2 separate regions of the Homo sapiens genome follow, and region 2 is linked to region 1. The links come from fine-mapping of genetic effects on gene expression. Tissue or cell type: visceral fat. Region 1 holds a variant in brackets; the other region holds the start of a gene. All regions are shown on one strand. Distances are between the middles of the regions.

Region 1 (15,230 bases):
CCAGCTACTCAGCGGGCTGAGGCAGGAGAATTGCTTGAACCCGGGTGGTGGAGGTTGCAGTGAGCCAAGATTGCGCCACTGCACTCCAGCCTGGGCGACAAAGCAAGACTCTTTCTTGGAAAAAAACAAAAAACAACAAAAAAAGGGAGCTCTTAATAAATTGTATTGGAGCAGCAATGAAATCTCCCTGTCCCCTCCCACTTCACCCAAGGAACCTAAAAATATGGTTGCTTTTTGAAATTTGAACTAGGAAATGAATGTGTAATAAATCAGAACAGATATGAGCAGCTGACTAGAGACAAAAAGGCTTCACAGGCCTGCAAGATTTGTAATGAAGATGCCAGCACATGTAAAGAAAGAATTTTCCAGGCCAGGCACAGTGGCTCGCACCTATAATCCCAGCATTTGGGAGGCTGAGCTGGGAAGATCACTTGACCCCAGGAGTTCAAGATCAGCATGAACAACGTGGTGAGGCCCTATTTCTACAAAAAATTAAAAAAATTAGCCAGGTGTGGTGGCCCGTGCTTGTAGTCCCAGCTACTTGGGAGGCTGAAACAGGAAGATCACTTGAGCCCAGGAATTGGAGGCTGCAGTGAGCTATGAGTGCACCAGTGTATTCCAGCTGCAGTCTGGCATTGGCAACAGAGTGAGACCCTAGCTCTTAGAAAAACAGAAAAAGAAAGAATGTTTCACTCATGAAGAGACATTGTTTGGCAGTGGCATCCCAGAAGGTGTAGTGTCTCAGAGGCAGACCTTGACATGCCCTTGAAGTACTGTCCTAAGCTGTCTGCTCCTTGTATCTAGTCAGCCTGAAAGATTTTGATGGAGAGAATATTCATAGGGTTCATACAGTTACCTTCACTTATTCTGACTATGTAAACTTGTTTTCCAAGATGGTGTGCTGGTAAACATAGACCTACAACCTTAATGATGGTTGATTTTCTCATTTTTCATTGTACAGCAATCACTTGATACTCTGGTTTCATGTATCAGTCCTGTGTGCTTTGTTAGCATAGATTATCATACTGGTGAAACAGGTTTGTTTTTTTTCCCAAGCCAGAAATTTTAATATAATCATGTTTTTAAAATTGAATTATTTATCTCAGCATTTTGGGAGGCCAAGGCACGTAGATCACTTGAGCCTAGGAGTTCGAGACCAGCCTGGGCAGCATAACAAAACCCTATCTCTACAAAAAAAATACAAAAATTAGCCTGGTTTGGTGGTGTGCACCTGTAGTCCCAGCTACTCGGGAGGCTAGGCTTGAGCCTAGGAGGTTGCAGTCAGCTGAGACTGCGCCACTGCACTCCAACCTGGGTAACATAGTGAGACCCTATTTAAAAATAAATAAATAAATTAATTAATTAATTTAATTGAATTTTTTTGTTCACTGATTTCCAAGAAATTATTTATTAATAGAAGTTAAATAATTCCATTAGTTTAAATGTATATCTTGCTTTTGTCAGTTAAAGGTTTTTTAAAAAACAAATCCAAAAATTTATAAAATAAAACCTTTATTTGTTCCTTAGATTGCCTTAAACTGCATAGTAATAACTTTTTTTTCTGTGTGCTTGTTTATTTTATTTCATCATGCACTCAACTGATTTTACTTAAAATGTCTTAAGCAATGACCCAAATCTATCTTAAAAACCTAGCCTTTTTTGTCCCTGGTTTGTTCTCGTCTTTTCTTAACACGTTCTATTTTCCCCTTCTGATTTTTTACTCTGTCCCAAATGATTCAAATTGTTTTACTGTTTTATCCTATTGGCATTTTCTTAGGCTCTCATTTGCTTTGAATTCTCTTTAGTAGGGTCTGAGCAATTGGCAAAAATTCTAGTTTGTCATCATTATCTTTTTTCGTACAAGTCCATCTTGTGTTGATCTCTGCAGTAGTTTGCCTCTTGGTATCAAGACGTTGCAATCCCTAGATCCCATCTTTAAGATTCCTGTTTGAAAAACCCAAGGTCCTTCACATGAAAATCCATCTGTGAAAAGCTCCATCTGTAATTTAGTCGCTCTCGGCATAGCTCCTCAGTAATGTTTTTGAGCTCCTAGTGGGATATGAGAGGTCATTAAAAATCATCATTTTTTCCTCCTTTTGCAGAAAAAAAGATTGGATTGCTTGAACTTGCTTGTTATTTTCTTTTTCTGCCGCATATGAACTCAGATAATAATGTTCTATGCCTGCTAGAGCTGTGAATGGTTATGAAAACAGACTTCTCTTTTTGCTGAAGTAAATATTTTGTGATTTCTGAAAGTATCCTGTATCACAGCATTTATATTTCTTTTATAAACACCTCTGGGGACTCTTTTTTTTTTTTTCACCCTTAGCTTCTTGGAGCACAGTTCATCTCATTGTTTTATATAAAGTCCAAGCATAGAGTTATTGAGCCCAGTTGAGCAGATCCCATGTTACTTTGCTATTTGCCATCACATACAGCAATATGGTTTCTTTGTTGTTGTTACAGTTTAGTGGACATCTGTTCTGTTGTGTTTAAGATGATCTGTGAAGTGATTTTGGTCTCTTTGGGGTCCAGACACTGAATCAAGATCCATTAGTACCATTTCTATTTCTCATAATGCTTTAATGTTTCCTCTTCAAATATGTTCCTTGTACTTTCTCATCAGGCCAAGCTAATAAGATTTTCCCCACTAAACTCTTACCTCTTCTGATTAATTTATCAGACTGAGGATAAATGTAATATTTGAAGCTTAGTTTTGACCTTTTCTAAATAAGGACTATTCAGAATGTAAACAAACAATTTTAAAGAAAAGCTGTTGACCCTCCTCTTCTGGTTCAGCTTTACTCTAACTATTAACAGGGCCTTTACTGTATATTTTTTTAAATGGATGTCTGTTAAACAGAGTATGTAAGTAAACTGTTATAAATTGGCATATTCTGGTGTGACTTGGTATATACTGGTATGTAGCTTTGCTGCCAGTAAATATTTGAAGTAGCTGGTGTCATTTGTTTTTTCCTACTTTATTTCTCTTTCTTTAGTGATCATGATAGGAAGAGAAGTATATTTGCCTTATAATCAGTGCTATGATGAGAAATGTTTAACAACCAGATCTCTAGGGGAAAAAGCAGCCCTGATTTGTAGCATTTGCTGATCTCTGGGTATACTCTCACCATGGATGATTTCAAGCTGCCAAAGTGACGTCACTGAATGCAGAGTTGGGAAGAGATGTGCAGTAGCACCCCATCATATAATATTTCCCCCATACAGATACACCTCAAGACCATGGGTAATATTAATCGCAAAACAGTAAAATCAACAAGAAGTAATGAGTTTTGAGTAGTCATTATTTTTGTTTTTAATATAACTTCTTTTTTTCCTGAGGCCTTTGGACTTGAATCATAATTTCTTTAATTGTAAGTTTATGTGATTTAATTTTTGGTAATGACAGAGTTTAACAACTGACTCACAAAATTCCTGAATGTTTATGAATCGGCTCTTGTGAGCTGGTACAAGCTGGCTCCAGTAAACCATTGCTTATAAGGGAGGAAGAGAAGTAATAACAAGAAAAGCATCACTGTGAATCCTCTCCATTTTTTCTCTAATGTTACAGCTGGAGATCCTGACTCTTCACCTTTAAAAAATTTCTTCCACCTTTTGGAGAGTGCTTATGAACCACTCACTTATGCTTACCAAAGAAGGCACATAATCTCTCCTCCAGAATCACCAGGTCCTGCACAGTTTACTGTGAACTTCATGAAGGAGCTTATGAAAAAGCTTTGTATATTTCAGTAGCCAAAGGCTTTTTCTTCTTTTGTCTTTAGAGTGTATGAAATAGTGCCATGGCTTTTGTGGAATATCTCTTTTTCCTAGCGGCTGGCTAGGTCTTTGCTAATACCACCCTGTCAGTCCATCAGGCAGAACCTTAGTGCTACCTGATGGTAAGGAGAAGAAAATTGCGGCCGGGCGTGGTGGCTCACACCTGTAATCCCAGCACTTTGGGAGGCCGAGGCGGGTGGATCACCTGAGTTCGGGAGTTAGAGACCAGCCTGACCAACATGGAGAAACTTCATTGCTACTAAAAATACAAAATTAGCTGGGCGTGGTGGCAGGTGCCTGTAATTCCAGCTACTCAGGAGGCTGAGGCAGGAGAATTGCTTGAACCTGGGAGACGGAGGTTGCGGTGAGCCGAGATTGCACCATTGCACTCCAGCCTGGGCAACAAGAGTGAAACTCCATCTAAAAAAAAAAAAAAGTACTTTTTTTGCAACAGCAGATGGTTTTATAGTTCTTATACTGTCTTGGTGAGCATCTTGGAAAATTGTGAGAAGAATGTGAAAGATACATATTAAAATGCCTTCTGCTGCCTTACTAATTACATGATTAGAATTCCCTCTTTTACTTTTTAGTCGAGTAATGGGTCTAAAAAAAAGGGACTTATTAGTGATACAAAATGCTGAAGCATGAATGTTTTCTCCTAATCTCTGGAATACGATATTGGAAGTCTACTTTTAAAATGTCATCAATTTTAGTTAATCTGGTGATACGCTCTACGAGATGTGCTGTCAACTAGTATTAAGATCTCACAGTACATAGGTTTTGAATACATTTTATTCTTTATGTACTGAGGGACTCATTTTAAGTCATACAGTTCCAAAGTTTTACATTTCACTTTCTTACTTCCAGTCCTGGCCTGGTGGTGACAGCAGAACATCAGGTAATCAGTGTTACCAGGCAATCATAGCAAGATACATACACATGATCATTAAAATAAATACATCAAAACGAAGTATGTGAAACTGTTCCATTAACATAACTAACAGCTGAAATGTAACATAACAAATCAACACATGTGTTACAACATTTGGTATTATTTCTGACTTTGCCTTTTAAGGCTGCAGAGAAATTGTTCTTGTTTTCATTGGAACGCAGATAAGTGTCAAGCTGTAGCTCATCAAATGGCCCCTACTTATGGAAAAGATGCCTTCCCAAAGCCTGTGCTCACCTTTGGCACAGTGAGAATACTTTGCTGGGTGCTTCTACAGTATGCTAATTGGAATCTAATCCCATAGCTGTCATCATTTAGCCTTTGATACAAAGAGAAATCCAAATAGTACAGACAGTTGTGGAAAACATTTCCATTTTTTTTTTTTTGCTTTTGACATTGTTAAAAACAATAAATTCAATAAACACACAATTTTCATTTCTCAGGTATGTTTATCTAGACCTTATCTTCAATAAGAAAACATTAATGTGGGAAAAGTAAGTCTGGCATGCATTATGATACATTTGAAAGGAGATGGGGATTCACTTCTATCCAAGAATATGCTTATAAACACACAATTTCAAAATGATTTTGGAAACTATTAAGTGGTGCGGAAATCTTGCATGAAAAATATCATAATGTTGGAAAAATATAAATTGCAATGGGAAATGTCGTATTTTAAATCGTTTGAGCTATCTCATGTGTATTAATAGTACAATGCAGGTATTATATAGAGGATATTGTCTCTAATTAATGAAGCAGCTGAGATTTCCTTGAAGATGCAAACAGGAATATTTGTTCACTTTTTCCCCCAACAATGTCAGCAAATTAATATGTATTAAGAATAAATTAAACATTGTTCTTCATTTTAACGCTATTTAGAAAGCAAAACATTAATCAAAATATAGATTTTCTTCCCCTACCCTCTTTTGTGTGTGTGTGTGTGTGTCTTCATTTATTCTAATTTTTTTCTCCATTCTTTTTTCTGCTCTCCAATTCAGCTCTTCCTTCTGTCTCATGGTATCCATCCTACATCTTTTTTCTTGCTAGTCTTGTTAACTCTCGAGTAATATTGACAGTTCAGTTAGGCTAGAAAATTAACTCCCAGAATTTCAGTACTGTAAAAGATTTTTTAGGGGCAGGCATTACTTTTTTTTTTTTTTTTTGATACAGATGCCAAGAAAGTGAGTCACAGGCACAGGTGTAGAGAGGTGCGGGGAAAGCAGCACATTGTGCATTTCCTGATTACATAACCTTTGAGTGTCTCCAGGAGAGATGAGGCTTAGAGCCATGTTGTGTGCAGTGCCAGGCAGTTTGATCACAGACAGGCAGTGCTTGTATCCCTTCTCAAAAACTTTCCTGCTGGGTTGTTAAAGCATCATAGGTTAATGTTTAAATTGGACTCATGTTGGCCACAGCTGTGTGTGAGTGAATCTCTGCTTGAATGTGAATCAGAGTAGCTGACTGGAATATGAAGGGAGCATTTTCTTCTCTAACATGAGCTACATTGTTATTTACTCTGTGGCTAGAAAGGAAGAACTGGGCGGCCAGTAAAAAAGCAAATGATTTGGATATTTAAACAATGTTTCTAACCCATAATCAGACTATATTATTTATATATCATATAGTATAATCTTTACGTTTCATCTTAAAGTCAATTTATATCAACTTAAAATGATTTTATCATCTTTATAAAGATTTTAAGTGTGTTGTTTAGCTTTTTAAACTTTTGTTTTAAATATACAATTACAATATCTTGTATTTGCTATATATATATATACTCAGTTGTTAGTTATCCACTTACAGATTGCCTTGGATTATTAGAAAGACATCTTCAGATTTTAGTTCCATAATTCAGTTTAAATGTACTATAATTTTATTGTATGGGCTAATAAAGGATTGACAAACTGAATTCAGTTTTCTCATCCTTACTCTCTTAACCACCTGTGTCCCTACCATCCTGGGGAGGTGAGGAACAGCAGAGACAACTTCAACAAAAGACAACAAATGTGTGTAATGTAGGCTTGGGATGCCATGGATTGGATGACCTCACAAGCCCCTTTTTAATGCTTCCAGTTCTGTGATTTTTCAATAAAGGACTGGGCATGGTGGCTCATGCTTGTAATCCCAGTACTTTGGGAGGCCAAGAAGCCAAGAGGGAAGGATCACTTGAGCCTAGGAGTTTGAGACCAGCCTGGGCAATATAATGAGACCTTGTCTCTACAAAATATTTTTTAAAAATTAGTGGAGCATGGTGATGAAAGTTGACAAGAGGATTGCTTGAGCCCAGGAGGCAGAGGTTTCAGTGAGCCAAGATCACACCACTGTCCTTCAGCGTGGGTGACAGAGCAAGCCCCTGTTTAAAAAAAAAAAAAAAAAAAAAAAAAAAAAAAAAAAAAAGACTGGTAAGGAATCAGGGATGTAGGGAGAGTGTATTATTATTATTAATATTTATTTATTTAAATTATACTTTAAGTTTTAGGTTACATGTGCACAACGTGCAGGTTAGTTACATATGTATACATGTGCCATGTTGGTGTGCTGAACCCAGTAACTTGTCATTTAGCATTAGGTATATTATTATTAATTTACTTATTTTTTTGAGACGGAGTCTTGCTCTGTCGCCCAGGCTGGAATGCAGTGGCCCAATCTTGGCTCACTGCAAGCTCCGCCTCCCGGGTTCACGCCATTCTCCTACCTCAGCCTCCTGAGCAGCTGGGACTACAGGCGCCTGCCACCATGCCCGGCTAATTTTTTGTATTTTTAGTAGAGACAGGGTTTCACCATGTTAGCCAGGATGGTCTCGATCTCCTGACCTCGTGATCTGCCTGCCTCAGCCTCCCAAAGTGCTGGGGTTACAGGTGTGAGTCACCACACCCAGCAGGAGAGTGTATTATTCTTAAGGATTATGCTGGTTGTCAGATGGGGGTTGATATTCTTGAACAAAGAGAAATTGTTTGGGTGACAATAATTCAATAAACGTGGTGAGGAAGCAAAAGAAAAAAAA[G/AG]TGGAAGGGCAAATTAATACCTACATTTAGGTGCAATCGTTTAGTTCATTTCTTTTTTCCTCCCCTCTGCTCTCTAGTTTATTTATTTTTAACAGGGAAGTCTATGAAGCGTCAACCCAAGTTCTAAATTGTATATTCTTGGTTTGAGATGTTGGCATTCGAGTATAGCTATTCAATTAATATGACTGAGAATTAGACAAATGTCTGTTTCTTATCACCTAACATCTGCTTTTCTTTGCGTTATTTTCAGCTTTAAATATGTGTCAAGTGTTTCTAGGAGTCTTGTTTTAGAGAAACTTCAGAATTTATCTAACTGATGACAATTAAATATAGAGGAACCATATAATTTATCATCTAAACCCAGATACTTTTCAGAATGAAACTATTAATAATTATGCCAAGACAGTAGGCTTAGACCAGAGTAGGGACACATGACTGTCCCAATTATATAGCTCCTAGAGACTGCAGACTCTGTAGCTAAATAATATGCATGAATCCCCGTGGCTAGAGCAAAATATGAGTGTGAGGTCAGGAAGAAAGGTAGCAGACAGTAACCTGGGAAAGGTCTGGCCTTGCTTGGTCAGAAAACTGAGTTTTATGATGTTTCTTGAGATGGAAGTTATGCTACTTATTTCCTCCTGATATTTGTTTTTGTTAGTTTCTCCTTGTTTCATTGGAGAGATTAAATTCATAGGATTTGCATTAGAGAATAAAAAAGGGGAGTGCAGGGAAGAGTCAAAAATTATACTATGAATGGTATATTATTAATGAAAACTGGAGGCCAGGCATGGTGGCTCACACTTGTAATCCCAGAACTTTGGGAGGCCAAGGCAGGCAGATTACTTGAGATCAGGAGCTCAAGACCAGCCTGGCTGACATGGTGAAACCCTGTCTCTACGAAAAATACAAAAATTAGCCTGGCGTGGTGGTGAATGCCTGTGGTCCCAGCTACTCAGGAGGCTGACACACAAGAATCGCTTGAACCTGGCAGGCAGAGGTTGCAGTGAGTTGAGATCATGCCACTGCACTCCAGCCTGGGTGACAAAGCAAGACTCCATCTCAAGAAGAAAGAAAGAAAGAAAAGAAAAGAAAACTGGAAACACAGGAGGAAGGGAGAGGCTTTAGAAGTTAGGAAAGGATAATTTGCTATATTATTGAGTCATTGAGGGTCTGGAAGATATTCATGTAGCTATAACAAAGTAGGCTGCTAGAAGCAAAGGTTTTGAGTTCAGGGAAGAAATCAGGTCTAAAACTATTAGTATTAATATATGGAGTTCTTCCACATTGATTGTTAAATTTTTGGGGCTAGATGAAGTCTTCCATTCATCCACTCATTCTAAATTTCACATTATGCCAGATGCTAGGGATACAGTAATAAACAAAGTAGACCCAGTCTCTGTCTTTGTAGAATGTAGGGTCCAATGGGAAAAACATAAAAGTACAGGGTCCATGGGAACACACAGGATGGATTCTTAAGCCAGACTTCAGGAGCCAAGGAAGCTGAGTCTTTAGGATGAATAGAAGCTCAGTGAAAGGGGAAAAGAAGATGAGGGTAGAGAGCATAGAAGGGATAGAGTGCAGAGTACAAAAATCCTGTGAGGGAGTGCTTGGCTCATGTGAGAAACTGTAGGGGCATGAACTGAGAAGGTGTAGTTGAGCATAGAACTTTAGTGAGTGTCATCTTTTAAGGGAGGAATGGAGGAAAAGGAATCAGCAAAGAGCCTGAGAAGAAGCGGAAATTGGCATAGAATCAAGAGAAAGGGTTGGCGAAGTCAGAGGAAAGAGAGTCAAGGAGAGAGGAGATAATAAGCAGTATTAAAGCTGCATAAGGGATCAGGTTGAATGAAGATTAAGGAAAGAAGCTATTGAATTGGCGATTATGTGGTTTTTAGTGATCTTTGAGTTCATTGTCATTGGCATGGAAGCCAGACTTCCATAGATTGAGGAGTGACTATGGAGACTTGTAGAGAGAGGGAAGAGAGAAGTAGTGTAAGAAGTAGGTGGCAAAACAGAGTCAGGAAAAACGTTTTAGAATGAGAGAGGCACTAGATTTCAACAACTTTGTAGCATAAAGAAGGAAATGGAATCAGTGGAGAGGTAGATTAAAGAAACAAGGCACTAAGAAAATAATTGGTGTTACAGGCTCTGGAGGAACATGGTCGAGCACACCTGAATGGCTTAGGATTGGAAAGATGTCTTTGAGACATCAGAGAAACAAAAAGATTTAAAAGAGAGCTCTTGAGAGGAAAGTTGAGGGCATTTATACCAGTGGTTTTTCCCAGTTATGTGGAAGATAAAGTCTACTGAAAGTGAAGAAGTGTAAGAATACAGTTGGGAGCATTAAAGAGGATGGCAGTTTTAAAATGGGAAATGGCATTGATTAGAAATAAGCAAAAATGTAACAAACTTTTTGATTGCAGCTAAGTTTTTTTTGAAGTCTATAATGGAGTCAGTCATTATGTTTTTAGTAGGAACTTGAGGATACAGTGGGGAGGAATTAGGGATGTTGGTAAGAGTATAGTTGAAATAATGGACAGTTCTCAGTCCCAATTGTGTAAGAAAGTAAGATAAAGCAGCTGGTGCATGATTTATTTAGAGGACGAGAATAACCTTCAGATTGTGCTGAAGGTGAAGAAAAGCTTGGTGAGGAGATACAAATAGATGAAAAGTATGGTCAGAGAGAGGAAGTTGTTCTACTAATATGGTAAGTGGTAAAATAAAGAGAAACTTATTTTGAAGAAAACCATAAAGCAAAATTTAAGAAGGTAAAAAGCCCAAGGCAATTGGATACAATCATATACAGAAACTTAGCTTCAACAGGGCATCATGAAGTGTCCACCATAGTATAGATATAGTAGTAGACTATCTAAATCACACGTAGATAATCTCATGGAACTTAGAGTAGCACTAAATCTTAAAACAGAAAGAGTAAAGGCAAGACTGAGAGTAAAAGAGAAGGGAAATAGATGTAGGCATCCACCAAAGGCTGACAATCCTAACAGCTGTCATTGTTATCCTAGCCACCATTTCAACTTCTTTCCTACTTTACCCTCTTCTCTGTTCTCATTTAAAAAAAGAAATCAGGCCAGGCGCGATGGCTTACACCTGTAATCCAAGCACTTTGGGAGGCCGAGGCGGGCGGATCACGAGGTCAGGATTTTGAGACCATCCTGGCTAACATGGTGAAACCCCATCTCTACTAAAAATACAAAAAATTAGCTGGGCGTGGTGGTGGACACCTGTAGTCCCAGCTACTCGGGAGGCTGAAGCAGGAGAATGGCATGAACCCAAGAGGCGGAGCTTGCAGTGAGCCGAGATTACGCCACTGCACTCCAGCCTGGGTGATAAAGCGAGACTGACTCCGTCTCAAAAAAAAAAAAAAAAAAAAAAAAATCAAAGGCGTTATCCTGATTTCTATATGAGAACTTTTCTTTTACTAACCAGAATGCTCAACATATGAGAATTTGATATGTAGCACATCAGATCTTTTTAAACTATAGTTTTGAATTGCAAAAGAAAAAAGCATATTTCAAAAAAATATTTCTCCCCTAATTTAGCCTGACTACTGATTTTTAATGTAAGTAATTTAGGCTGTTAAATTTTCTTTTCCTTGAAGTGAATTTGGAATTATTGGAGCAAATCCTACATTTTTAAATGTTGTTAATTTGATAATTTTAATCTTTAGTTTCGTAATTTACCTAAGACATTATTTTAGTTTACTTTCAAAAACTCTCTCTCTCTCTCTGTTTCTTTCTTTTCTTTCTCTCTCTCTCACTGTCTCTCCCTCTTTGTCTCTCTCCTCACTCTTGTCACCCAGTCTGGAGTACGGTGGCACCATCATATTTCACTGTAATCTCGAACTCCTGGCCTCAAGTGATTCTCCCACCTTGGCCTCCCAAAATGTTGAAACTACAGGAATGAGCTACCACACCCTGCCAGCTTTAAATTCTTGACCTGTGAAATTTCCCTTTCAAATCACTGTTGCTCTTTAAGCCACTCATCTCTTATTTATATACTCAGCAAATATCTATTGAATGCCTATTATATTCTGAACTTTAGTATTCCCTTTTAACTACTCTACATGCCCTTCTCCCTTATCTTAATCACTGGTTCTTTGATACTCTACCCTGCAAATTACTGTATCACTACCCTGATTTTGACCTCGTTTGCTTTCCTGCGTGTCATGGACCTCACAGTAGAGCATTTCAATTGCACTTTAACCAGCACCTTTGATTCTTTGGTTGCTTTAATGTCTTTACATATATATATATAATATATATTATTAACACCATTTATTGCTGTCTCCTGTCTTTAAGCTAACTCTTCATTTGGCTTCTGTAGCATTACTCTGACTTGGTTTACCTCTTATCTCTCTGACTTCTATTTCTCAGGTTCTTTTACTATTTCTTCTGACTTTATTCGTTATTATCATTTTATTTTGCAATAAGTATTTATTGATATTTACCCACATATTTGTACTTTCCATTGTTTTTGAGTCCATCCTGCTTTTGTCTAGAGCCTCCATTTAATATTTCATTTAGTACAGGTCTGCTGGTGATGAAGTCTCTTTTTTTGTCTGCTGATTTATAACATCTTTATTTTGTTTTTATTTTGGAAGGGTGTTTTTGCTAGACATAGAATTATATGTTGGCAGTTATTTTCTTTTGGCACATTAAAAACTCGAGGCTGGAGTCAGTATCTAGTCCATTCCTGCTCTCAGGGTGTTTTGAGAGCTTAGGATGTTTACAGGGACTTCCCCACTGACAGGTCCTGAACTATAATCCTTGTCTCCTCATCATTGCGAGACTTCCAAAAACTCCATTTATAGGTAATTATAAGGATTTTGACTTTTATTATGTGTGAGATGGGAAGCTGCTAGAGAGTTTGAGCAGAGGACTGCTGCACAAAAGGATTTTTCTGTCTGCTGTGGTAAGAATAGACTGTAAGAAAGCCAAGAGGAGTCTGGGAAGACCAGTTAAGAGGCTACTGCAAAAAAGCAAGCAAGAGGTGAAGGTGGCATATAATTTCTTGTCTAGCTATTGAAATAACTTCCAAACTGCCTCAAATATTGATCTTACTCAAACTATCACATCCAATGACGTCACTCCTCAGTTAAAATCCTTCAAAGATTCCCCATTATATCTTTAAGTAAAAATTCAAATTCCTTAACAAAGGATAAAAGATCATATTCATGCTCTGGTCTCTGCCTCCCTTTAAAGTATCTTCTCTTATTCACCTCTTTCCTTTAGCCAGTGTTACCTACTTGAAGCCTAAAATCCCTCCATAGGTTTTAAAGCTCCCATAGGCCTCCATGCATTGACCTGTGTTTTGCTTCTGCTTGGGCCGTCTTTCATCAACCCTCCTCTATTGTGCGATTATTGACTCCAACTTATCTTTAGAGATTCAGCTTAACAGTTATCTTCTGGAGGCCAGGCATGGTGGCTCACACCTGTTAATTCCAGCTCTTTGGGATGTCAAGGTGGGCAGATTGCTTGAGCCCAGGAGTTCGAGATTAGCCTGAGCAACATAGCAAGACCCCATCTCTTTAAAAAAAAAAAAAAAAGAATTATCTTCTCTCTGAAGAGTTTCTAGAATTCTTTCCTTCCCTAGTCCAATACATAAATGAGTCTTTTCTAGGGATTTGGAAAATTTAATAAATGTTTATGGCATCTACTGTCTGCCAAGAACAGTTCTAGGAATTGGAGATACACCAGTGAATAAGCTACAGTCTTTGCCCTCAAGGATCTCAGTCTAGAAGAGAAGACACATAAATACATAACTGCATTATAGAGTGACAGGCATAGCAGCAGAAATTGTGATTGTTGGGGGAGAATGTGAGTGAAAGCTTCCTAGAGGAGGGGAAATCCATGTTGGTTTTTTATTTTTTTAGACGGAGTCTCACTCTGTTGCCAGGCTGCAGTGCAGTGGCACAATCTTGGCTCACTGCAACCTCCGCCTCCTGGGTTCAAGCGATTTTCATGCCTCAGCCTCCTGAGTAGCTGGGACTACAGGCGCCCACCACCGTGCCCAGCTAATTTGTGTATTTTTGGTAGAGATGGGGTTTCACCATGTTGGCCAGGATGGTCTCGATCTCTTGACCTCGTGATGTGCCCGCCTCGGCCTCCCAAAGTGCTGGGATTACAGGTGTGAGCCACTGTGCCTGGCCTTATGTTGGTTTTAAACTCTAAATTAGTTTATCAAGCAGACAAGGTATGTGGGGTAGTGTAGACATCCAAGATGGAAGGAACAATATGTGCAATGGTATGAAATGGCAAAATAGCAAGACTTAGGGAAATTATAGAAACTTTGTATTTGAATGTAAAATTTGAAAGATGATTAATGGGAGATGAGCTTAAAAGAATCATTAAAGATCTTATTTATAATACATACCTCTCTTATAGCACTTACCGTCCTGTATTATAACCATTGATATTCATCTCCATGTCACCACCAAATTGGCTTCTTCAGAATAGGCATTGACTCTTGTTCATTAATCTTTACATACATAGCACCTAGCCAGGTGTCTAAGATGCAGTAGATGGAGTACTCAGTAAATGCTTCTGTTGTTAACATGGACCCTTTAAGTCTTAAAAGATTATTTTAAATAAGACTATTACTTGCTGTTTGGTACAAATTTATATCTGTATCTGTCTATTCTGAGTTGATCTAGATATTATCAGTTTCAAATTCTAAGTATATGAAATAAAATTGAAATAAAGTATAAGTTAACTAGAGATTTTTAGTAAAACTTGATTTAAAATGTCAGGGCATGACATATCCAGTATGCAAACATTTTTTAAACAAAATGTTATTAAATTGCTTCTCAGATATACATAACTATTATTGAGAGACATGACAATTAGTAGAATGGAACAGATATTTGTGGCAGGTTTGCTGGAGGTTCTATGTATATCTTTCCATTCACTCTTTTTTTTTTTTTTTTTTTTGAGGTGGAGTCTCACTTTGTCACCCAGGCTGGAGTGCAGTGGCATGATCTTGATCTTGGGCCACCGCAATCTCTGCCGCCCGGGTTCAAGCAATTACTTCTGCCTCAACCTCCTAAGTAGCTGTGATTACAGGTGTGCACCATCACGCCTGGCTAATTTTTGTATTTTTAGTAGAGATGGGGGTTCACCATATTGGCCAGGCTCATCTTGAACTCCTGACCTCAAGCGATCCACCCGCCTTGGCCTCCCAAAGTGCTGGGATTGCAGGCATGAGCCACTGCACCTGGCCTCCATTCGCTCTTATGCTTTTCTTTATGTCTTCCACAGCATTGGATACCAGATGGAAAGACTTAATGGCAGAAAGGGGTAATTAGCAACAGTCTTAAGAACTCTGCAGCTCAATTTGGTAGGGCTGGTAGTCTGTTGGGTCTCCAGAAGACTAATAGCCAGCTTTTTAGTCCTAGTGTATTCTTGCCACTTGTTTCCAAAAAAAAGTATTTCAAGCCACTTTGGAAAGTAACACAAGTGTTTTAGAAATGTTGTGAAGATAAAG
Region 2 (15,230 bases), 89 kb before region 1:
TGAATACCCTTTATTTCTTTCTCTTGCCTGATGGCCCTGGCCAGAACTTCCAATACTATGTTGAATAGGAATGGTGAGAGAGGGCATTCTTGTCTTGTGCTGGTTTTCAAAGGGAATGCTTCCAGTTTTTGCCCATTCAGTATGATATTGGCTGTGGGTTTGTCATAAATAGCTCTTATTATTTTGAGATACGTTCCATTGATACCCAGTTTATTGAGAGTTTTTAGCATGAAGGGGTGTTGAATTTTGTTGAAGGACTTTTCTGCATCTATTGGGATAATCATGTGGTTTTTGTGATTGTTTCTGTTTATGTGATGGATTACGTTTATTGATTTGCGTATGTTGAACCAGGCTTGCATCCCAGGTAGGAAGCTGACTTGATCGTGGTGGATAAGCTTTTTGATGTGCTGCTGGATTTGGTTTGGCAGTATTTTATTGAGGATTTTTGCATCGATGTTCATCAGGGATATTGCCTGAAATTTTCTTTTTTTGTTGTGTCTGCCAGGTTGTGGTATCAGGATGATGCTGGCCTCATAAAATGGGTTAGGGAAGATTTGCTCTTTTTCTATTGTTTGGAATAGTTTCAGAAGGAATGGTACCAGCTCCTCTTTGTACCTCTGGCAGAATTCAGCTGTGAATCTGTCTGGTCCTGGACTTTTTTTGGTTTGTAGGCTATTAATTACTGCCTCAATTTCAGAAGTTGTTATTGGTCTATTCAGGGATTTGACTTATTCCTGGTTTGGACTTAGGAGAGTGTATGTGTCCAGGAATTTATTTTCTTCTAGATTTTCTAGTTTATTTGCGTAGAGGTGTTTATAGTATTCTCTAATGGTAGTTTGTATTTCTGTGGGATCAGTGGTGATATCCCCTTTATCATTTTTTTATTGCATCTATTTGATTCTTCTCTCTTTTCTTCTTTATTAGTCTGGCTAGTGGTCTATCTACTTTGTTGATCTTTTCAAAAAACCAGCTCCTGGATTCACTAATTTTTTGAAGGGTTTTTCATGTCTCTATCTCCTTCAGTTCTGCTCTGATCTCAGTTATTTCTTGTCTTCTGCTAGATTTTGAATTTGTTTGCTGTTGCTTCTCTAGTTCTTTTCATTTTGATTTTAGGGTGTCAATTTTAGATCTTTCCTGTTTTCTCTTGTGGACATTTAGTGCTATAAATTTCCCTTTACACACTGCTCTAAATGTGTCCAGAGATCCTGGTTTGTTGTGTCTTCATTCTCATTGGTTTCAAAGAACATCTTTATTTCTGCCTTCATTTTGTTATTTACCTAGTGGTCATTTAGGAGCAGGTTGTTCAGTTTCCATGTAGTTGTGTGGTTTTGAGTGAGTTTTTAAATCCTAAGTTCTAGTTTGATTGCACTGTGATCTGAGAGACTGTTTGTTATGATTTCTGTTCTCTACATTTCCTCAGGAGTGTTTTACTTCCAATTATGTGGTCAATTTTAGAATAAGTGCAATGAGATGCTGAGAACAACGTATATTCTGTTGATCTTGGGTGGAGAGTGCTGTAGATGTCTATTAGGTCTGCTTGGTCCAGAGCTGAGTTGAAGTCCTGAATATCCGTGTTAATTTTCTGACACATTGATATGTTGTGTTAAAGTCTCCCACTATTATTATGTGGGAGTCTAAGTCTCTTTGTGGGTCTCTAAGAACTTGCTTTCTGAATCTGGATGCTCCTGTATTGGGTGCATATATATTTAGGATAGTTAGCTCTTCTTGCTGCATTGATCCTTTTACCGTTATGTAATGCCCTTCTTTGTCTCTTTTGATCTTTGTTGGTCTAAAGTCTGTTCTAGCAGAGATAAGGATTGCAACTCCTGCTTTTTTTTTTTTCTTTCCATTTCCTTGGTAAATATTCCTCCATCCCTTTATTTTGAGCCTATATGTGTCTTTGCATGTGAGATGGGTCTCCTGAATACAGCACACTGATGGGTCTTGATTCTATCCAATTTGCCAGTCTGTGTCTTTTAACTGGGGAATTTAGCCCATTTACATTTAAGGTTAATATTGTTATGTGTGAATTTGATCCTGTCATTATGATGTTAGCTGGTTGTTTTGGCCATTAGTTGATGCAGTTTCTTCAAAGTGTCAATGTTCTTTACAGTTTGGTATGTTTTTGCAGTGGCTGGTACTGGTTGTTCCTTTCCATGTTCAGTGCTTCCTTCTCTTGTAAGGCAGGCCTGGTGGTGACAAAATCTCTCAGCATTTGCTTGTCTATAAAGGATTTTATTTATCCTTCCCTAAGAAGCTTAGTTTGGCTGGATATGAAACTGTGGGTTGAAAATTCTTTTCTTTAAGCATGTTGAATATTGGCCCCTACTCTCTTCTGGCTTGTAGGGTTTCTGCAGAGAGCTCTGCTGTTAGTCTGATGGGCTTCCCTTTGTACGTAACCCCACCTTTCTCTCTGCCCTTAACATTTTTTCCTTTATTTCAACATTGGCAAATCTGATGATTATGTGTCTTAGGGTTGTTCTTCTCGAGGAGTACCTTCATGGTGTTCTCTGTATTTCCTGAATTTGAATGTTGGCCTGTCTTGCTAGGTTGGGGAAGTTCTCTTGGATAATATCCTGATCTTGGTTTGAGAATTGAACTTGGTTCAATTCGCCTCCTCACTGTCAGGTACACCAATCAAACGTGGATTTGGTCTTTTCACATATATTTCTTGGAGCCTTTGTTCACTCCTTTTTATTCTTTTTTCTCTAATCTTGTTTTCTCTCTTTATTTCATTAAGTTTATCTTCAGTCACTGATATCCTTTCTTCTGCTTGATCGATTCGGCTATTGAAACTTGTGTATGCTTCATGAAGTTCTCATGCTGTGTTTTTCAGCTACATCAGGTCATTTATGTTCTTCTCTACACTCGTTATTCTAGTTAGCAATTTGTCTAACCTTTTTTCAAGGTTCTTAGCTTCCTTGCATTGGGTTAGAACATGCTCCTTTAGCTCGGAGGAGTTCGTTATTACTCACCTTCTGAAGCCTACTTCTGTCAATTCGTCAAACTTTCTCCATCCAGTTTTGTTCCCTTCCTGGCAAGGAGTTGTGATCTTTTATAGGAGAAGAGACGTTCTGGTTTTTGGAATTTTCAGCCTTTTTGTGCTGGTTTTTCCCCATCTTTGTGGATTTATCTACCTTTGGTCTTTGATGTTGGTGACCTTCATATGGGGTCTTTGAGTGGATGTGCTATTTCTTTCTGTTAGTTTTCCTTCTGACAGGCCCCTCTACTGCAAGCCTGCTGGTTTGCTGGAGGTCCACTCCTGACCCTGTTTGCCTGGGTATCACCAGCGGAGGCTGCAGAACAGCAAAGATTGCTACCTGACCTTTCCTCTGGAAGCTTCGTCCCAGAGGGGCACCTGCTGTATGCCAGCCAGAGCTCTCCTGTATGAGGTGTCTGTCGGCCGTACTGGGACGTGTCTCCCAGTCAGGATACACTTGAAGAGGCAGTCTGACCCTTAGCTGAGCTGGAATGCTGTGCTGGGAGGTCTTTTGCTCTCTTCAGAGATGTCAGGCAGGGACATTTAAGTCTGCTGAAGCTGTGCCCACAGCCGCCCCTTTCCCCAGGTGCTCTGTCCCAGGGAGATGGGGGTTTTATCTGTAAGTCCCTGACTGGGACTGCTGCCTTTTTTCAGAGATGCCCTGCCCAGAGAAGGGAAATCTGGCAGTCTGGCCACAGCAGCCTTTCTGAGCTGCAGTGGGATCCACCCAGTTTGAGCTTCCCAGTAGCTTTGTTTACACTGGGAGCAGAAAACCACCTACTCAAGCCTCAGCAATGGCGGATGCCCCTCCCCCCACCAAGCTTGAGTGTCCCAGGTCTATCTCAGACTGCTGCTGTGCTGGCAGCAAGAATTTCAAGCCACTGGATCTTAGTTTGTTGGGCTCTGTGGGGGTGGGACCCCCAAGCCAGACCACTTGGTTCCCTGGCTTCAGCACCCCTTTCCAGGGGAGTGAACGGTTCTGTCTCACTGGCGTTCCAGGTGCCACTGGGGTATGAAAAAAAAGAACTCCTACAGCTAGTTTGGTGTCTCCCCAAATGGCCGCCCAGTTTTGTGCTTGAAACCCAGGGCCCTGGTCGGGTAGGCACTGGAGGGAATCTCCTGGTTTGCGGGTCGCGAATACCATGGGACAAGCACAGTATCTGTGCCATAGTTCCTCAGGCTCAGTCCCTCACAGCTTCCCTTGGTTGGGGGAGAAAATTCTCCGACCCCTTGCACTTCCCGGGTGAGGTGACGCCCCACCCTGCTTTGGCTTGCCCTCCGTGGGCTGCATCCACTGTCCAACCAGTCCCAATGAGATGAACTGGGTACCTCAGTTGGAAATGCAGAAATCACCCTCCTTCTGTGTCAATCTCACTGGAAGCACAGACCAGAGCTGTTCCTATTCGGCCATCTTGCCAGCAATCTGGGTCTTGGTTCTTTATCCAGCTTGCCATTCTGTGTCTTTTAATTGGGGCATTTAGCCATTTACATTTAAGGTTAGTATTGTTATGTGTGGATTTGATCCTGTCTTCATAAAGGTAGCTGGTTATTTTGCAGACTTGTTTATGTGGTTGCTTCATAGTGTCACTGGTCTGTGTGCTTCATTTGGTGTTTCTTGTTTGTTTTTTTACTGGCTACTAATGGTTTTTCCTTTCCATATTTAGTGTTTCCTTCAGCTCTTGCAAGGCAGGTTTGGCGGTGACAAATTCCCTCAGCATTTGCTTGTCTGAAGAGGATCTTATTACTTCTTCACTTATGAAGCTTACTTTGGCTGGATATGAAATTCTGGGTTGGAAATTCGGTTGAGAATGCCGGATATTGGCCCCCAATTTCTTCTGACTTGTAAAGTTTCCACCGAGACGTCCGCTGATAGTCTGAGGGGCTTCCCTTTGTAGGTGACCTGGCCTTTCTCTCTGGCTGCCCTGAACATTTTTTCTAACATTTTGACCTTGGAGCATCTGACGATTATGTGTCTTGGGGTTGATCTTTTTATGGAGTATCTTCCTGGGGTTCTCTGCATTTCCTGAATTTCAATGTTGGCCTGTCTTGCTAGGTTGGTGATGTTCTCCTGGATGATATCCTGAAGCATGTTTTTCAACTTGGTTTTGGCTAATAGACTTCTTAAACTCTCCCTCTCAATGTGGTCCACTCACAGCTTTCCCCAACTCTGTTGATGGCAGCTAAACTTTTCTGGCTGTTCAGACCAAATCTGGAGTCATTCTCAACTACTCTGTTTTACTCCCATGTCCAACTTGTCAGGAAATCCTCTTGGGTCTACTGTTAAAATGTCTGCAGAATCTATCTGAAACCTGTACTGCTTGTTCTGAACCACCCGGTCTGAGCTACGATTAGCTCTTGCCCGCTTCGAGTCATGCTAATATTAATATATTCTCTAGACAGCACCCAGAGCGATTCTTTCAAATAGAAGTAAAGTCATGTCATTTCTCTGTTCAAACTCTGCTATGGTTTGCATTTCACTCAGAATGAAACCTGGAGTCCTTACCAAGGGCCCACAAAGCCCTTTGTGATTTGTCCCCCAACCCCCCACCTCCCACCTCTCCATTATCTTCTGCCAGTATCCCGTCACTTCATTTGGTCCTCTAATTTTGTCTGGCCAAGATAGTGGTTTATTTTTGTCTTTTTCTATGTAATAGGGAAAAGGCAATGAATACAACTAGATGGGAGTTACGTTTCCTTGCAATACAAGCACTAATTGTCTTATTCTTTTGTTAAGCATTCATATACCTGTGGGGCCCCTGCCAGCCTTGGAGTATTCCTACAATGTAGGAGGCAAATGTAAAGCCACCGAAGGTTTTAAACAGGTCAGATTTGCGTTCAGATGGATGATTTTGCATTCATCATGGAGAATGGGCTTAAGCTGAACTCCACTGGAAGCAAAGACTGAAAAACCATTAAAAAGTTTTTACAACTGTTCAGCAGGAGCGCAAAGGAGACTCCAGATTTCAGAAACACTAAGGCAGAATAAAGAGGACCTAGTGCTTGACTGAATAAGACCGTTTGGGGGTCGGGCAGTAAGTTTCAGGGAAAAGCTCCTAGGTTTCTGGCTTGAGTCTTGAGTAACCTAACAGACGAAGGTACCACGTTAGGTGAACATGAGGCCTCCTCGGGTAATTTTTAAGCCTAGCTATCTTGAAAATGCAGCAGTCCTGATGGGCACACACGTGTTGGGGAAGTTTGCGGTTCCTATAGGCCGCGAATTATTTAACTTTTTACACAAGCATTTCATACAACTGTGATGGAGATCAAGAGCTACGTGTTGCCGGCCTCCTGAGGAATGAGGAAAACTGGAGGCCTGACTTCCCTGCTTCCTCCGCTTCCCGGGACCAGCCGTCCTGGCCGCCTGGCGCCCCGCATGCCCGCGGCCTCTCCCTCCCGTGGAGCACCGCGTTTCCCTGGCCGTTGCTGGCGGGCTGTAGTGGAGGAATAACGGACCTGAGCAGCGGTCACCACAGTAACGAATTCGCTGCCAGTGGAGTCTCGAGGGACACAGGCGTCTCCAGGGCGCCCCTTCCGGGTGACCGCGCTGGGGGTCCACACGCGCGTCCGCCCCCAGCCTTCGTTCGCCGCGCTGGTCCCTGCCCAGAGGAGGAGGAAGGGAGGGTAGGGGGCGGCGGGGGTGTTCCCGTCGCAGCTTGGGAACCCCGAAAGGCACCTGAGTGGCCGGCCTCGGCCTCCCTGGGCGGCCGTATTGTCTAAGCTCCATAGCAACCCCGGCGCGGCGCCGGCCACGCTAGCCAGCGTAGCTCCGGAGCCCGCGCGCCGTCGCCGCGTCGCTCAGGCCCTGACCCGCGCTGGACCCGCGCGCTAGGGCCCTGACGGCCCGCGCGGGCTCCAGGCGCGGGCAGCGGGGACGGCATGCCCGAGAAGAGGCTCACCGCGGGTAGGTGGCGGCCCCACAGGGACAGAGGATCAGCCCGCGGCGTCGGGGCCGCACCACGCGCCAGCCTCTGGACTTTACCTCCTGCCCTCCTAGCGGTATCCCCGCTCCCAGACATGAGAAAAAAGGGCTTCACTGCCCTCCTGTTGGATTTTATGACGAATTTCACGTCCTCGCCGGTTTATGCTGGCACCACGTTATCTCGCTTAATTCTGCATATTGTACGTAGAATAATAGAGGGTTCCGTCTATGAAGAAGGGTAACTCCTGGGTCACAGTGAATTAGTGACCAGGCAGGATTCCAGAGGCCTTTCCTTCCCACTTCCACCTTGAATTCCAACTTAAAATGCAAGCCATGTACAGAGAATGAACAGAGGGCCAGAAATGTGCTACGTTTGCCTGTGTATAACGTAGGGCTAGGTGCTGTCTCCCATGATTTCATTTACTCAAAGGAAATCAGATTTGAGGGAGATAATGTAATATTTTGTCTTGTTTCAGAGCCACCAACTATTACAGAAGAAGAATTTGTAAGTATCATTTCAAGGGGCTATTTTTTTCTTTGGCCTTTAAAAAAATAGCAAATATTAGATCATAGAAGAAAGCTGTGTGTTTTCTTTCCTCCTTTTTGCCAGAGTTTTGGTTTAGTAACAATTGTAATAACTGTGTACAAGATCTTTTTAAATTCTTTATCTGGCACATAATTTTAAGAAGGGGCCAATTAATTTGTATGGTGGATGCTGTTCATCATTAAAGTTCTTTCACATAAATGGCCTCATTTAATTTCTCTAAACTCTTTAATGACTCCATGAGAGGAAAGTTTTATCTCCATGGCTGTATTATGATGTGGCTGTGCATTTCCTGGTTGGAGTAAACATAAGTAAATGGCGTTGATGGATAAAGAGTGGTCAATTTATCATTCCTTTACAAATGTACTAAATACTCCCATTTCAGACTTCTAGAGAGGTGAAGTAATAAAAGTATTTGCTAAATATATCCTATACATTGTCATTTAGGTGAGTGCTACATTTAGGCTGGGTTCCATTGTAATTCCCATTGTATACAGTGTTTCAGGAACTTGCCTGAGGTTACACAGACAAATAGGAGCTGTCAGAGCCTAATTCCTACCAAGATCTGAGTCTGATTCCAAGAGCTCTAACCACTTCTATTATTTATTTATGTCTTCCAGCACTTACTTCTCTTGTTGGCTAATTATCTTATTTGCTTTTGGCTTTCAATCAACAAACATGCATGATTGTATAGTCATAGTGTGGTCCTAGATGCTGAGGTTAAGTCTCAAGAAGTTCACAGTCTAGCAGGGACTAAGAGAGAAGAAAGGGCTAAGCCTGTGTGCGCGGGTGGCTTTCACATTCACCTTTCCAGAGCTCTGGTCCATTGCTGGGAGAGACAGACACACACACATCTACACATACACACATACACACACACAGCCACTGAAGGTAGAGGTACACAGAACAAGTCAGAAATTCCTTCCATCTTCTGGCCATGTTGACAGAGCTCTGCTTTAAGAAAAAAAAAAATACACACACACACACACACACACACACACACACGCACATATTTTGAGACAGGGTCTCTCTCTGTCACCCAGGCTGGAGTGTAGTGGCCCCATCACAACTCACTGCAGCCCTGACTTCCCTGGGCTTAGGTGATCTTCCTGTCTCAGCCATCTGAGTCACTGTCCCTATAGGCACGTGCCAGCACGCCTGGCTAATTTTTATATTTTTTGTAGAGACAGAGTTTCACCATGTTGCCCAGGCCAGTCTCGAATTCCTGGGCTCAAGCAATCCACCCACCTCGGCCTCCCAAAGTGCTGGGATTACAGGCCCGAGCCACTGTTCCAGGCCCAGAGCTCTGCTTTTAATGGGAAATTTCTTTAAGCTGCTCCAGGCCTTCCTGAATTTACTCTTAGTTCCAGCAGGAGGTGAGCATTTCTGAAGCCAGCAAATCTTTTCCCATGCTGCTGAAGACTACTCAACAACACGCCACTTACTGTTTGAACAGTTCACTATTTTAGGTGTTGGCCCCATCCTTGAACTCATGATAGCCTGAAGACTCTAGGCATTCCCTTTCTCTTGGCTTGGTTTCACTGTCTCCGAGTTCTCTTATCTTTCATTATTATTCCCCCTTTCTGGCTTCTCTTTTTCTTTTCTCATGAAAGTATTGACCTTCAGGATTCTGTTCTCTGGGCTTTCTCTGGGTGAGCTCCTCTTCTCCTCCTGTAGCTTCAGTACCCCTGTTTCGTGGGACTTCCACATCTCCATACCTCCAGTCCAGACACCACTTTTAATGCCAGCTCTGTATATCCAGCGGTTATTGGGACTCTTTATCATCTGAATGTCCGTGTCAACAGTCTAAACTGAACTTTTCTCCCCAGGCCCCTCCACACTATGCTGTCTTTCCTCCACTTCTTATTTTGGTTTGTGGTGCCACTGGCCATTCAGTCACTCACATCAAAGACTTTCTTCCCTTTTCTTCATCCCCTGCCTGCAATCATTTACCAAGCTCCTTTCATAGCCAGATCTTTTTCTCCATCCACACAACTACTGTCTCATTTCAGGCCCCCACCCTGGGTCTGGACTTTGGTAGTAATCCTAACTGATACCATTGCCTCCAATATTCCTTCTGCCAACTCCAGTTTTTCTTTGTCTAAAGCATAAAATTCAAGCTCCTGAGCATCAGTTGTATTAGATTACTTCCTATTCCTTTGCTCTGTCTACCTTTAGATTTTTCCTTCTCCTATCACTCTTACCCTGGCTATCAGATTGCTATTAATTTTTTAAAACATTACCTTGTTACTGGCTTGCTCAGAGCTTTTATTAATAGCTAGTATTTATTGAATGCTAACAACATGCTAGTATTTAGTCTCAAAACAACCCTATTAGGTGGTTATTACTGCCTACATTTCACAGAAGAGGAGGTCGAAGTTCACAGTGGTTAACTAACTGGGCCTGAGGCCACATATCTCATAACTGGTAAAGCCAAAATGTCAAATGCTTTGCTTTAGCCTTCAAAACCTTTTCTATAACTTTTCAGCCTTCTTTAACCTTACCTCCCAATGCTTTTCTCTGTGATAAAGACAACATTCTTACTGTTTTTGATTTATAAAGTACATCCACATGCCTCCTGCCCCAGCCAAACTATACCCCACTTGTCTCCTTGCCTTTGCTGTCAAATTTTGTCTCAGTTGCCCTTCCCCATCTATTTCACAATCTTGCACATTCTTCAAGGCCCAGCTAATCTCCTCCATGAAGCCTTTCCAACCTAACATCATCCAGACTGCCTGTGAGCTCTGAGCATCTTTTAGCTGAGAGCAGTTTATAACCAGATTCTCAAATTCATATGCTCAACCAAGTATTGTCTATAGATTAAATAATTAACATGTCTTGCACATGTATTTACCCCTGTTTTTCAAAAGTGTGAAAGTATTGTTTTCATTAATAAATTACGTATTCTTAGGAAAAATGTGTCACGGACCTGTAGTTCCCCAAACTCCATTCTCTCCTTTCCATGGTAGATATCAGACCCATTGCTATCCCAAATTAAGACTACATTTTCTAGTTTCCCTTGCAGCCAAACATGGTCACAGAACCAAATTCTGGCCAATACGATGTAGGCAGAAGTGTTGTGTCCTACTTCTCTGGAGAGCTGATGTTTATAGAGATCAAATAATGGACCCTTAGGTCACACAGCTAGTAATTAGTTGAGCCACAGTTAGAAGCTGGGCTATTCTAACTTTAATACTTACATAAGTGTAGAAGGAAAGAATGAGCCCTTTTTCTTCTTTTCTGCCAGCTGGAATACAGTTGTGATGCTGGAGCTAAAGCAGTCATCTTAAATCATGAGATGGATGTGGCATCTTGAGGATGGTGGAGACATAAGATCAGAGGGGCCTGGGTCCCTGATATTTGGGAAGCCACAATGCCTTATGATTAATGTCTTATGATTACAACTGCTTTTGATTACATGAGAAAAATATTTTATTATTTTATTTAAGTAGTTTTTTTTTTTGGTTTCGTGCTCCTGTGTTCATACTAGCTTTTTTTTCATATTGTATTTTCTCAGTGGATCTAAAAGTACCATGCTGTTATAGACATCTGCAAAATAATATTTGAACCTCAACATGGGGTCTTCATTCTCAAAGGATAGAATAACTCATTTAGAATAAATTATTTGTTTGTTAGGGACACATACCTTGTATATATTTTTAATTTTTTACCTAGGTGTAAGATACACATTGAGAAAGTTTAAAGTGAGAGTGAATTACAAAATTTACACATTAAAATTTAGGGCTGGGCGCAGTGGCTCATGCTTGTAATCTCAGCACTTTGGGAGGTCAAGGTGGGCGGATCATGAAGTCAGGAGATCGAGACCATCCTGGTTAACACAGTGAAACCTTGTCTCTACTAAAAATACCAAAAAAAAAAAAAAAAAAAAAATTAGCTGGGCATGCCTGTAGTCCCAGCAACTCGGGAGGGTGAGGCAGGAGAATCGCTTGAATCCAGGAGGCAGAGGTTGCAGCGAGCTGAGATCACGCCACCACACTCCAGCCTGGGCAACAGAGCGAGACTCCATCTCAAAAAAAAAAAAAAGAAATTTAGGAGTCACTGTCACTTTAAACTTACAGCTAAAGTAAGGTGTAAGGTACACATTCAGAAAGTTTAAAGTGAGAATGACTCTTAAATTTTTTTATCATTAAAATAGAGTGCATTAATAGCGAAGATTTAAGAGCCTGACTTTTACATTCAAAATAATATCTTTTTCTTGTGCCTTAAAAGTAGTTAGTTTGCAACTATGCAAGTAAGTGTGCCAGACTTCAAAAAAAGTCTTTATCAAGTCTTCCATCAAAAAATGGAATCCAGGAAAGAAAATTCTTTATGGAGTAAAAACATTGTAGTGTAATGATCTATTTTGTTGAAGGTTTTCTGATTTAGAAAACCCACAGTTTTATTAACGTTAAAACTGGATTAAAAGCTGTTTAAAAAAGGAAAAGTTAAAAAAGAGACTACCTTGTAATCTTACTATCAAATTAAGATAAACTTTAGCTTTAAGCAGTATTTACTTGTATTTTAGTTGTTAAAAGTGGTATTCATTTTTAACTAATTTTTAGTCTGTTCAAATTTCTATTTTGTTATTTTTACAGGTTGAATGAAATTATAATAAACATAGGGTATTTCCCAAGCATGAAGACATTCTCATTATTTTAACATACAGTAACATAGTTGACTCTCCATATCCATGGATTCCACATCTGTGGATTCACCCAAACTTGGATTGAAAATATTCAGAAAAAGGCCAGGTGCAATGGCTCACACCTGTAACCCCAGCACTTTGGGAGGCCGTCGCAGGCAGATCACCTGAGGTCAGGAGTTCGAGACCAGCCTGGCCAACATGGTGAAACTGCGTCTCTACCAAAAATACAAAAATTAGCTGGACGTGATGGCACATGCCTGTAGTACCAGCTACTTGGGAGGCTGAAGCAGGAGAATTGCTTGAACCCAGGAGGTGGAGGTTGCAGTGAGCCCAGATCATGCCATTGCACTCCAGCCTCGGTGACAGAATGAGACTACGTCTCAAAAAAAAAAAAAAAATCAGAAAAAAATACAAACTTTAAAAATATAGGATAACAACCATTTACATAACATTTACATTGTATTAGGTATTGTAAGAAATCTAGAGTTGATTTAAAGTACATAGGAGGTTGGGTGTAGGTTATATGCAAATACTATGCCATTTTATATGAGGGACTTGAACATCCCCAGATTTCAGTGTCTGTGGGGGGTCCTGGAACCAATCCCCTGTGGATACCAAGGGACAACTGTATAGAATAAAGGTCCATAATTCCAGTCCTCCTAAACAAGACTAATTACTTGGCAATTAATGACCACTTGGTGGTTTTTTTCAAACAAAATATGTTAAATTACACATAATTGGGTTAAATGAACAGTGAGAGCCTACTGGGGCTGACACACTAGGCAGCTTCATATGGAAACACTGGAAGATAGGGCTAGACCTAAGTACTACCCCTACGTTCTCCTGTTCTTGTTTCTTTAAGAGGTTGCAGAGCTAGGGGCCAGAAGTGTTGTGAACAAGTCTTTAGGAAACTAAGACAGGTCCCAGAGGTCCTTTGTAAAGTGTTATGCTATTTGGAATTCTTTCATCTCTATGGAATCCTTTACTCTGAGTAGGAATCAAATTCTCTGATGCTTTTTTGGAACTACAGAAACTGTTAACAGTCCCATTGATAAGTTGGTAAATAAGTATATCATTAAGCAACTTTTTCAAGGTATGGCCATATTAGACACTACTGGGGACAAACATTGTCATTAGTCCCCAAAGTAGCATACCTTCTGATCAGAGAGATGGCCTTTAATATGAAACAGTAAAAGGATAAGCAGTTTATAGTTTAAGTGTGAGGTTTGAATTAAAAGTACATTGGGATTTAGAGAAGCTTGCCACATCCTCTTTTTACCTGTAAAGTATAGAATGGGAGACAAGGTGACCAAGGGTGTGAGATACTCTCTGCTTTAAATGAGTTTATTGAGTTGTAAGTATCTTTGTACAAGGAGAAAGCCTTAGGGTGTTTGTGCCTAATGGATTGTCTTAAGCCTAGTAGGTATAATTCGAAGTATTGGATTGGATAAAATTGATTGGATAAAAGGGAGTCTGGGCCAGGCGCAATGGCTCACACCTGTAATCCCAGCACTTTGAGAGGCCGAGGCGGGTGGATCATGAAGTCAGGAGATTCAGACCATCCTGGCCAACATGGTGAAACCCCGTCTCTACTAAAAATACAAAAACTAGCTGGGCTTGGTGGCATGCACCTGTAGTCCCAGCTACTCAGGAGGCTGAGCCAGGATAATCGCTTGAACCTGGGAGGTGGAGGTTGCAGTGAGCCAAGATTTTGCCACTGCACTCCAGCCTGGTGACAGAGCGAGACTTCATTAAAAAATAAATAAAATAAAATAAAATAAAATAAAATAAAATAAAATAAAATAAAATAAAATAAAATAAAATAAATAAAATAATAAAATAAATAAAAAAATAAAAGGGGGTCAGGGGCAGGGGAGCATCCAGAGCTTCCTTCACCTTCTCAAGCCTTTTGGGTACTTGTTGAGAGAGAGAGAGACAGAGAGAAGGAAAGGGAAGAGAAAAGAGAATAGAAGAGAAGAAGAAGGAAGAAAGAGGGAAGAAGAGAGAAGAGAACAGAAACCCGATGGAAAAGTGCTTCTGGATAGATACTGATGTAATCTGTGATGATAACCTTTGGAGGATAAAAGCAGAGTCCATACTTTTGCTCCTCATTGCATGAACCACTTTAATATCTTCCTCCTTCATAGACTTTGTTTCTAAGAAAATATAATTTTGCAAACCAGTGGGGATCTGATATGCGGGCTTTTGGTTTTCAAATTTCAAAAATGCCTTGATCTAGGCAAGCTATACTTTCAACAAGATGTGTTGTGGAGCTTGTCTCACCTTGCATTCTCTTTTTCTGACCCTTTTCTCTTTTGACAATATCTCTTCTTTTAATTAGTATTATTCGTTAGAGTCTTTTTAAAGTTATTAGTCTTTTCTCTTTAGGTTTCATGTCCTCAGTGTAATCATTCAATTATTCAGTAAAAATGTTCTAAACATTTACTATCTAAAGGCATTGAGAAATTAAAAGAATAAATAGGAAACAGCCCTTTTCCTCCAGTTCACAATCCAGTGGATGAGACATGTAAACAATTATAGTATGAAGTGATAAAGGTTTTTATAGGGGAAATATAGATGACCACTACTCCAGACTTCTGGAGAAGAAAAAAGATAGGTACGTGAATAAAGGGGAAAATTTTTCTGGGCAGAATAATCAGCATGTGCCAAGGTGCAGAACTATAAAAAAATTGCTATGACCACAGCGTGTAGTATGAGATAAGGCTGGACAGTGGGCAGGAGCCAAATTGCTTTCACCATAAGCCCTTTTTGTAGTAGAAAAGGATTGGAGATTGGGGGAACAATGGATCCCTTGTATTAAATGAGGTGTGGCTAGGAAGGCTGACCCATAGGGTGGTGTGGATAAGAAGGAATAGGAAAGATGAGGTTTGGCATATGATGGACAGTACGGTGAACCGAGGTCAGTCCCTTAGTGGACAGGATTCCAGAGTAGTAATCAGAAGATGGTCAGATAACCAGGAATTTATTCTAGAGGCAACGATGCTGATTTGAGAATCTGATATTTAATACACAGAAGGCTAAGAAGCCTGTCCATAACGTGCAGAGAAACTTGATCTTATTTCCTTGTACATAAAGCCCTCCTCCAAACATTTTACTAGGAAAAAATTTAAACATATAAGAA

Which allele goes with the higher level. Alleles are on the strand shown, and positions count from the first base shown. SD is a standard deviation of normalised expression in the study named.
For the expression in visceral fat of the gene that starts at base 6,729 in region 2, AG is the high allele of the variant in region 1 and G is the other (small effect, 0.27 SD a copy in GTEx).

Evidence for each region. PIP is the estimated chance that this variant, and not a neighbour inherited with it, causes the effect.
Region 2: it holds the start of RGS22, and the variant in region 1 is the best candidate, but not a certain one, in a credible set for the expression of RGS22 in visceral fat (GTEx, PIP 0.52).

The regions. Positions count from the first base shown.
Region 1 is chr8:100,008,872-100,024,101 of GRCh38, reverse strand. The region is part of intron 14 of RGS22 (regulator of G protein signaling 22); the gene reads left to right. Among named protein-coding and RNA genes, the nearest start is that of SNORD77B, 12 kb to the right of the region's middle. The variant G/AG (reference allele first, on the strand shown) is at 7,731.
Region 2 is chr8:100,097,548-100,112,777 of GRCh38, reverse strand. RGS22 (regulator of G protein signaling 22) reads left to right here and starts at 6,729. Exons shown (of 28, transcript NM_015668.5): 1 at 6,729-6,881; 2 at 7,376-7,404. The coding sequence starts at 6,857.